2 separate regions of the Homo sapiens genome follow, and region 1 is linked to region 2. A link means that fine-mapping ties the variant in region 2 to the expression of a gene that starts in the linked region. Tissue or cell type: whole blood. Region 2 holds a variant in brackets; the other region holds the start of a gene. All regions are shown on one strand. Distances are from middle to middle. Region 1 holds the start of RNF182 (ring finger protein 182). Region 2 overlaps RNF182 (ring finger protein 182).

The links.
Region 1: it holds the start of RNF182, and the variant in region 2 is fine-mapped to the expression of RNF182 in whole blood (TOPMed, PIP above 0.99).

Annotation. Positions count from the first base shown.
Region 1 is chr6:13,922,375-13,927,763 of GRCh38, forward strand. It overlaps RNF182 (ring finger protein 182), which reads left to right and starts at 2,578. Exons shown (of 3, transcript NM_152737.4): 1 at 2,578-2,649. RefSeq lists an enhancer at 1,473-1,973.
Region 2 is chr6:13,946,308-13,951,696 of GRCh38, forward strand. The region is part of intron 1 of RNF182 (ring finger protein 182); the gene reads left to right. It also overlaps the pseudogene MRPL35P1. Among named protein-coding and RNA genes, the nearest start is that of RNF182, 24 kb to the left of the region's middle. The variant A/G (reference allele first, on the strand shown) is at 2,757.

The DNA.
Region 1 (5,389 bases), 24 kb before region 2:
TCAATAAATTCAAAATATATTTTAACATGTAACCAATATAAACATTATTAATAAGATATTATTTTTTTAAAGTTATTGTTCCAAGTCTTTGAAATCTGGTGTGTATTTTGCACTTACTGAACATACCAATTCAGTAGCTAATTCATATGTGGCTAGCAGTTACTGAATTAGACTGTGCAGCTCTAGATCTTTTTAGGAAAGCAAATTCATTATTTTAACCTCATTTCAAAAATGGTGAGAATAAGAAAGACTAGTCATGTATCCACACATTAATTTTTAAGCTTTAGTATCTTCAGTTTCAGTTTAGCTAAACAGACTAAAAGCTGCCACTTAACCTATTCAAATGATATCCCCTGGTAAGTAAGGTGGCACATTTTAAGATGGTTTCCTGACAAGTCTTTTAATTTTCTCCAAGAGGCAGAATGGAAGCAGACCTTAAGATAAAGCTAAACCTCTTTTGGAAAAATGAATGTCTGGAAGAATGTCTCACAGAATAACGCAGGACCAGGTCACTAAGCAATGCTCTAAGTGGGGACACAACGTGGACTTTTCCAAGCCTTCAGCTGAGGGCAGGGATGGCCAAGTCAATGGTCCCTCCCTGTTCTGTATTCAGTTTTTGATCAGGCAGTAATGTGCATGCAGGTCAACAAACATTTATTAAAGCTTTTTGTTTTTGCTTCTTCATTGATAAATTACTAATAAATGCTCATTTGAAAAAGCCAAACAAACCAAATATGTGTACTAAATTGTACATCGTAAGAGGTAACTGTCCCTTCAATTTTTTTTGTAGTTAACAGGTTACCACTTCTAGCAATTAGGTAGGCATTCTTATAGACCTTTATCCCTATGTTTTTGTTCTGTTCCTATATATCCAGTTTTTTTGTACAGAATGGGATCACCCACACATACGGTTCTGAGCCCCCCTTTTCCATTTAATAAGAAATCAATATCTATGAATTTTATATATTTTATTCTTATTAATGGATGCATAGTATTACATGGTATGAAGTGCCACATTATTTAACCATATCACTATTGATGGGCATATAAGTTGTTTCAAACATTTACTATTACAAAACTTCTGCAATGCATATCCTTTTATATCTATCATTACACATTTGTGTGTTTCTGTATGACAGATCTCTAGAATTGAGATAGCTGGGAGAAATGTATGTGCATTTTGAATTCTGGCAGGTATTGCCAAATGCTTAATGGCCTGCCAAAAAGACCTTGTCTTTTGACTTCATCTGGAATATTATTGACTTCATTCAGAATATTCCCATTACAAGAAAGTGGCCAGTCTCTCCGAGGAACAAACTGTTTTCCTTTTCCACCATGAAATAGATCTTATCTTTTCATTAGTTAATATAGGTGTACCTTCAAATGGCAATAACATTGTTCTGCTTTGTGGCTTCTCAAGTAGTAAACCCAGAAAACATCAGCTACCGTGGATTTTATTATAAATCATTGACATTCCTTTGGTGATTCACAAATGCCAAAAAATAAATGTCATGTTCCCCAGGGTTTGAAGAAAGACACTGTAGCTTTTGGATTCAGCAACGGATCTTTCAAGAAAACAGTATGGAGGGATGACTCACTCCCCCCATGGAGGCTGCCCTCTAGTTCGTCCTTTAGAGGAAGCATGACCAAGGGTCTGCTGGTACTTTTCTCTCCCTCTCTAAGAATTTCCTCAGGAGAGGAAAAAGTTAGCTTTCTTTTCTCTGCTCCTGAGTGCCATGGCCTGCAGTACGTGACCAGTCCTTGGCACAGAGTCACTCAGGGCTCATGGTAGATGCTTAGCGGTCACAGCCAGTAGCTGCGCAGTGTGGCAGCAGCTGAGATCCATACTGCAGCCTGAAAGTTGTGTTTCAGCTTCTGAGGTTACAAGTGTATCCAGTGTTTACATCAGAGATAAAGCCCCCTTTCCCCTCTCTCCTACGGGAGCCCTCAACAAGACAGATACACGGGTTGGGTGGAGTGAGACCACATCCAGCAGAGGCAAAGCTTGCTAAAAGAGAGAGGAGGAGGAGGGGGAGAGGGAGGAGGCGGCACGGCGTCCCTTGGCAGCTCCGTGCATGCTGCGGCAGTTGCAACAGGAGAACCGAGTACCAGTTGCTCAACACTTTATCACTTTGCATTGCTCTTTCTCCTCCCTTAAGTGAATTTCCATTTTGAGGGTACAGCTCCACAGGAGAAAGGTGTGGTGGTGGTAGTGGTGGAGGGTGTCTGTGGGGGGGATGGTGGTGCGACGGGAGTTGGAATGTCCAGTGTGGGGAAGCAAAGGAGTGCCTACTAGGATGCGAATACCACTTGGCCCTGGGCTCGCTCCGCTTTAGCCTTCCCCTCTCGCTGGGGAGAAACAGGCGGTTTGTGAGGGAGACTGAGAGAGGGGCGTGTTTGTGGTGGTGGCGGCCCATCGGGGGTCCTTGTCCTCTCCGAATACCCGGACTGCTGAGGGGAAGGGCCGGGGGGGCCCCGGCGGTTGCCATGGTGACGCAGGGTCGGCGGCTCAGCGCCGTAGAGACAAAGCCGCCCGCCCGCCAGCCCGCTAGCTCCTCGCGCGAGCTCCTCCTCCACGGGAACCTCCCTCCCCTCCCAGGCGCCGCCGCAGCCGGAGCGGCTCCCGGGCCCTGGGCCGCCGCCGGCCAGGTAAGGCGATCGCGCCCGCGGCCGGGGAGGGGTCGGCGGGACGCCGGGCCTCCCCAACGCTGGGGCAGCAGCCAGCCCCGCAGTCCTGGACGGCGCCGGGCCGCCCAAGCGCGCCGAGGAGAGGGGGCGGCAAACTTCGGGCCGAGCGGCGCCGGGGCCCGCGCGCGGAGTCTCCCTCCGGGCACCACGGGGGCCGCCGTCCTGGCACCAACTTGAGGGGCTGTGCGGCGGAGGGCGGCTGCGGAGCGCCCGCGCGGGCTGCACCTGCTCAGGGAGCTGCCCCTCTGTTGTTGTTGTTATTTTCCTTCTTGGCGTGCCATCGAGGCTTTTGGGGGAAAAAAAGGTATGAAAGTATTTACCTTTGGACTTTCATGTTTCATGGCATTCTCTTTGAGGAGGGGTTGGGAGGGTAGTAAGAGGGACAAGCGAAAGATTTTTACGAATCTCTGAAAAGTGAGCCCATTTTTATGCCTGTGGCTGAAGCATTTTGAGGAGGCTTCTGAAGTTCGTTTGGATATTGAATCGAAAGACCTTTTTTTCTTTGGAAGGTGCAGTTGCACCTATAACTGGATGGTAAGGGTAGCCCGGCTTTCCCCGACTAGCAAGACCAGAATGTAGAGCAGTACCGATACTTTGTCAAGGAGATACTTGGCACCGAGGTCATTGCTTTTGTTTCTAGAAGGTATTGTGTTCATGCTGTAAGGAACTGGAAAGTGCCTTTTGTTTTTATGTGTAGGGAGGCAATCCAAAGCACCTCTGGAGGCAGGTAGCTGGGCGGTGTTTGCATCGGTGTTTATGAGTGGGATGATGAGGACCACGATGCGGTTGCCACTGGGGCACTGGATAGGTTATAGGTACCTTTCTCAGTGGCCCCAACCCTTGCAATCATTTCGTGATAGTTTGTTGCAGACGCGAAGCACAGATTTAAATTGTGACTGTGAAGACTTTTTTTTTTGGTACTTAGACATCATCTTACATGTAGTAATATGAAAGAAAACAGATACATTTTCAGAAATACAGTTGATCAATTCAGAAGGAAATTGTATATATGTTAATAAGATTTGTTTTAAATCATATTTAAACAATATGAGATGTCATATTGATAACTGGAAAATAATCTAACATATAAAATTGTATATCCAACTTAGTAAAATAATGTATAAGTTGGAATAGGTCATTTAAAGAACTATATGGAATGCAAGAAATTATATTTTTGCTAGAGAGTAATTAATGAAAACAGTACCACTGATCATTTTGAATTGCAGTTAAGTTGATTGGAATTCTGCATATTACAGCTACTTGAGGTGTCAGGCAAAGAGTGATTATTTAATATTCCTCTTCCCTCTTTTGGGATTTCAACACCTGTTAGCCTGCTGATTACTAGGTTTCTCAGTCTGTTCATATTTGCCAGCAACTTCAAGTAATGCCACTTCATTAGAAGATTGTATTGGAAACTAAAGGATTGAAGTTGCAATTAACAGTTTGCAGGTTATTTCACAATTGGGCTTGTTTTTAAACTGAATTTTACCTGTGGAAGATTCACAGATGCTCTGCTAAATACTCTTTCATGACGGTAATAAAATCGTACATTGATTAAAACGAAGTAGATCTGTTTTGAGAAGATAAACGGGAGAGAAAAGTATTTTCTCACTTAAGCATGAACAGCAAATAGGATATTGAAGCCTAGGCACATTATATAGACAGAGAATGTAGTTTTATGTTTTGTACTAAAAATAAATTATTTTGTGTGTTTGTGTGTGTGTGTGTGTTTTTTTTTTTTTCCTGAGGGACCAACAGAACAGCTTTATTCAGATCTTTGTTAGCAAAACCAGTATTCAAGTTCAAGGACTTGGTCCGTGCTTTCTGCCAGATGAAACCCACACTGTGAGTTCTAGCCTAAACATTTATGTTGTGGCCCTTAATCTGAGTGCTGAAGAACGGAGATATCCATGGTGAATTTAGCACAGTAAGGACCGGTGCTTTGCCTTTGCTGCTAGCTCACACGGGCACAACATTCAATATAGTTTGGCTTCTTCAGAGCTGCATCATTTTCTGCCAAAAAATAAAGTCGGTATACAGAAATCAACAATCATGTATTGCATGCACTGCTTGGTTGTAGTGGCTTATTAATAAGAGCTCCGAAGCATGAAATGAAGCTTGTGTCAGTGCAGTGGAAAACAATAATCTGGCATGTTTATATGTGTTACTAGTGTTCTGAGGTATGTGCATAACCAGATAATGAAAGAAAAAATACTATGATATCTGCAATATGTCCTTAGAAAATGCAAACAGCAATTGTGTTTTCTGTCCATGGTTTAGCCACCTGGTGGAAGCAGGCAACAGCATTGCATATCCCCAGGTGTAAAATACTAGTCATCACTCTTGCTGATTCACGGGAGTAGGAGTCTTTTCCTGCATTTTAGCTTACGGGTTTTAATTTTATGACGTAAAATTGGTCCTAATTTTTGGTATAAGCTGTAAAATATGGCCTGATAATTGTCACCATAGCTGTATTCTACCTGAAAGAATTCTGTAATTCAGTTTATGAAGCATATCCAAAGACAAAAAAAAGCCACAAATGTTCCTGTTTAAGTTAGGATTAACATTATGTTTGTGCCATTGAAAGTCAGTTGTTTGTAACCATATAAGCCTGCATAGGCAGCCTAAATAAAGCCACTGAAGCCTTTATTGACTGTTTCTGGGTCAACATTCTCTTGCAATTTCTAGTTGCACTGTGATA
Region 2 (5,389 bases):
AGGCATGTGCATTATGCCTGGGTAATTTTTGTATTTTAGTAGAAATGGGGTTTTACCATGTTGGACAGGCTGGTCTCAAACCCCTGACCTCAGGTGATCCACCCGCCTTGGCCTCCCAAAGTGTTGGGATTACAGGCATGAGCCACCGTACCTGACTGCAAAACTTATTCTTAAACTAAGAATGCTTTTGTTCATAAGATATCAGGACATCAGGACATTTCCTGGGTCTGTTATTTCCTGGGTTTGTTAAGTCCTGGGTCTGTTCAGTAAACATTATTAACTTCTTCCCTTAACTGTAAATATCCTATGACTAAAAATGTCTAGCCTCCTGGGAATCCAGCACAGTAGGTCTCAGCCTCATTTTACCCAGCCCTAATTCAAGATGGAGTCACTCTGGTTTGAATGCCTCTGACACATTTCCCCCCTCCCATTTATAAGGGGACCCTTAATCCTGAAGGTTGCAGAGGGATAGAAATTTATCTTCTGTAGCTTCTTCAGGCTGAACAGGGGCAATGATATTCCTGCCTAACAATTTTTAGGGTCTCTTGTATTTAGAGTTGGGAGGAGTTTAGTCATAAAGTGTTAGTATGGTGAAGGTCATTCAAAACTCTGAGTCCTGATGAAAGATGATACCTGGAAGATTAGTAAGTATTTAAGAAAACATTGAGTAAGCTTATCCTGAATTATATACAAAGAGTACAACAGCAATATATTCTACAACTGTAAAGCGAAATCAGTAAAATTGTCTAAAATTAAATAAGAGCTTTCTATGAACTGGGCAATTGTGGGAACCAAGCTGATATGGGGTCGCTAGCTGATTTCATTATGTGTCCAGAATTAGAATAGTGATTCAGATTTTTATGTTAATCATGCCTCATGTTTCTTTTGAGCAGCAGCCAGAGATCACTGGTTGGTTCACAGGAATAAGCAGGGTCAGTCTAAATTGCAGAAAAAACTCAAAAACAATGGATGAGACTAGAGTCTGGTAACAGGTGTACCATAGTTTGTGAAACATAATTTTTCTCTCTCCAGTCCCTATTTTTATTTAAACAAACCATGGTAGGACTGATTTGTTGGCAAAATAAATTTTAGTCTTATTGTATGTGGACTGATTTGTTGGCAAAATAAATTTTAGTCTTATTGTATGTGGCCTGGTTATTTGTATAAAGTGAAGCAAGAATAATTATTTGCCATATAGGCTCTTTTGGCTTTGATGGAACTGTGTTCTATAATCTAATCTTAGATTAGACTTTTTAAAGCCTTGAGACCAGTCATGGATTTATGTGTGTCTGCAAATATGAGTTGGATAAGTTTCTCTCCTCTGGATGTCCCAAGATATTTGGGGCTCCTGGGCCTGTCAGAAAGTGACATTCTTTACTTGCTACAGGTCAGGAGCCCTGTACAAGGCTCAAGATATGAGGTCAGTTTTCTTAGGGGCTTTAATTGGCTCTATAAATGAATTTTGATTCCTTAAACCAGTTTGTTTACATTTGAAAGCATGTCAGTCATTCCAGTCAAAGCCTTGGTAAAATAACCAGTGTCTCCAATTGTGTCTTGTCACAAAGGAAAAATTCTTACTGGACTTATGTAAATAGCTATATCACCATAAGTTAAAAATACTCACAAATAGTTTCCAAATTTGGGAGAAATCAGGTAGAGAGAAAGAAATGTGCTCTAAATTTTGTTTACAGTAGTATATTATACTCAATTGTTGAAAGCTGTAAATAGCTCAAAATAAAAGTTTTCTTGACTCTGAAAAACAAAACAAAGGCAAAAAGTCATGAATAGATTATTTTGGTCTTCTATTAGTTGTCTATGCAATTCCTGTTTTTCTCAATATTTATGAATACATTAGTTTTCCAAGAGTCTTGGAAGTTTTTCTTCGTTTTAATGGCATACATTTCAAAGCTGTGAAAGTCCTGCTTTATAAGAGTACTTGTCAGAGTCCTATAACTGATTATAAACTGCCTTTTGAAGAGAATCAAAACAAGACAATTGCTTGTAGATGACAAAAAGTCTTAGGGCAGCTACAGTCAGAGACACAATTGACAAGGAAATTTGGCCCCTTGTGGCACACAATAATTTAAGATAACAATTATAACTATTAATGATAACATATACTAAGTTATACCAGAATTATAGTAGTTTTGCATAATTTTGGAACACATACCAATAACACATTTAAATAACCCAAAAAATGTCAGATGCCATTTTGTATTTGACAGTACTTCCTGTATGATTTTAGTATGTCAAATAAGTCAAATATGCCATTATTGGACTTCAGGGGACCTAATATCTAAAAGGATTATCAAGTCAGGAAAGACTTATTAAGTCTTTAGGTCCTACTTAAGTCCTAGTTTGATTTGGGAATGTTTGTTAAATAGCAAAGGTGTAAAACACTTTATGTTATAAAATAGAATCTCAGGTCACTGTAAGTCATTTATTTAGCCAAAATGACAACTTAAAGATTTTAAAAAGGCAAAAACCTTTACCCATTGATAGAGGGAAGAGTTAGCTTTCCAAATAATGTCTCTTTTCTCTCCTTTCTTTTTTTTTCTTTAGTTTATTCAAAAGACAAACAAAAATCTTTTATCTTTTAATATTACATGAAAATCTTGTTCAAAAGAGAAAGCCAAATTTCACTTTTGCATTAATGTACTATTAATGTCAAATCCAATTTTTAATAAAATCATACGGACAAAATCTACTCACTCCTAATCAGTTTGACCATAAAGTAAGATTTTCACAAACCTTTT[A/G]TAACCCTTTAAATTTTTTGTTGATGGCAAGATGGCTGCCACTGCCTTTGCCAGTGCAGTGAGAGCAGCTTCAGGAATCTTATAGCCCCTGAATATTTTGGCATCTTCAGCCTACCAAAACTGTGTGTCAAGAATGCCTCTCTTATTTCTGCATTGTCCACTGGACGTTTTAGTCATATTCAGACACCAGTTGTTTCCTCTGCTCCCAGACTTACCACATCTGTCAGAAACCTGACATGTGGGCATCCTGCGGTAATCTTTAATAGAGTGGCCCCCTTGCTTCCAAGTGTCCTGAAGCTGCCAGTCAGATCTCTAACATTCATTTGTACACAAAAAGGCAAGAGAAAGACTGTGAAAGCTGTCATCTATAGGTTTCTTTGACTTCATTCTGGCCTTTGGTTGACGAGAAAGGCTGGTTATAAGAAAAAATTACGGAAAAAGACACTTGCAAGAAAAAAGCAATTGAGGGAATCTGTGTTCTGCAGTAAAACCCAGAGTGAACTCTTAGATAAAATGATGATGTCCTTCTGGAAGAGGTGAAAAACTGATATGACGATGATTCTTATCAGAAGTTATCATGATCGAACAAACCTGAAAGTATAGATCAGAAGTTTTACTTGTTTCTCAGTTATTGAATATGTATCTTTGTGTACGATATCTTCACAAAAATGGGTAAGTATAAAACTTGATGTAAATTGTACCAACGAATAGGTAAACATACAGTGCCAACGTTAAACTTATAAAAGTTTTAAAACTTAAAAAAAATTTTGCTGAAGAGTAGATCAGTGCTCTAAGAAAACCCTGTTGTGCATTTTTCCAGTATTCAATTTATGGAAAAACTAAACAATACCCTCTTAATTTTAGTCAATTTGTTCACACACAGAATTTCTTTTACAAGATTAATTTTTCACAAACTTTCCACCATTTGCTCAAATTTTTAGCTTTATTCTATCTAACTTAAAATAATTATTCAGCCCTCTGAACTAGGCAAGAAACTTCTCACATTCCCATGTCTTTTTATAAGCTTTTACAAAAAATACATTCTACTTTTCTTACATACCTTGCTCCAATAGTCTCAATTACATATGTTACAATGTTAACTCGTAGCAACTTTTATTTTTGGTGAAAAACTTGGTGAGTGAGCGATTTTAACCTTGTATCAGATTGTAGAGCCCAAGACAAGGACAGAGCTGTAAAGTCTGACCTTCCCAGCCTAGTCAGGGGACCAGGCTAATTCCATACATCTCAAGGCCTTACCTGGAATTCGCTGTAAAGCAGACAAGTCAAATAATTATAAAAAATGTCATAGAAGCAGTTTATGACCTTAACACATTTACCAAGGACAGTATTCAGCTTGCCTAATTTAGACTAAATGTCTAAAAGTCATGTGAACTAAATGACATTAAAGTTTTTATTTTTCTGACAAAACAGGTACTTTTTTTTTTTTTTTTTTTGACAGAGTCCTGCTCTGTCTCCCACGTTGGAGTGTGATAACACAATCTTGGCTCCCTGCAACCTCCATCTCCCGGGTTCAACAATTCTCGTGCCTCAACCTCCCGAGTACCTGGGATTACAGGCACACACCACCACACATGGCTAATTTTTGTATTTTTAGTAGAGATGGGGCTTCACCATGTTGGCCAGGCTGGTCTTGAACTCCTGATCTCAGGTAATCTGCCTGCCTTGGCTTCCCAAAGTGCTGAGATTACAGGCATGAGCCACCACACCTGCACTCCCCCTTTATTTTTTTTGAGATAGAGTCTTGTTCTGTCACCTAGGCTGGAGTGCAGTGATGCAATCTCAGCTCACTGCAATCTCTGGCTCTTGGGTTCAAGTGATTCTCCTGCCTCAGCCTCCTGAGTAGCTGGGACTACAGTCGTGTGCCACCACACCTGGCTAACTTTTGTATATTTAGTAGAGACGGGGTGTCACCATGTTGGCCAGGCTGGTCTTGAACACCTGGCCTCAGGTGATCTGCCCACCTCAGCCTTCCAAAGTGCTGAGATTACAGGTGTGAGCCATTGTGCCCAGCCACTTATTTTTCTTTAAGTCAGTTAACCAGAGCTCTTTCATATGTAAACATCACACACACAACACATATAAATACACGGAGAGATGGAAGAAGATCTAATAGTTATAATATTTTTTATTTGCCAGTTTTAAGTTTCTTAACTGGATTACTGGCTTCAGGCAGAAGACCTTCAAGGAACAGGGTCAGGAAAGCATGCAGTTTCTAGGGCCTAATAAGCAGGCATGGTTGGAAGGCAAAACAGATCCTCCAAAATTAAGAGCCCCATTTTTATACTGGATCCTTGATCCCCAAAAAGAGAGAATTAGCCCATCCCCTATGGGAGTCTTATCTCTCAGTTGGGGTGGGGACATTTCCGTACCTTCCAGGTGGTCAAGAACATGCTTCTCTGATCCCAGTGTGCCAAGAGCAGAGTATTCCTCCCTCATAGCTGCCATTAGCTGTCCCTAAAAGTATATGTCCTACCTAGTTATTACACACCAAGGCTAAAAGCTCTCATAATGCAAGTGATTTTGACCATTCATTTAACCAGTTTTCACAGACAGGCCAGAAGCCTGACTGGTAGGAAATTCCTACCTTTTTGCCAGCATGCCAGGTTTCTGGG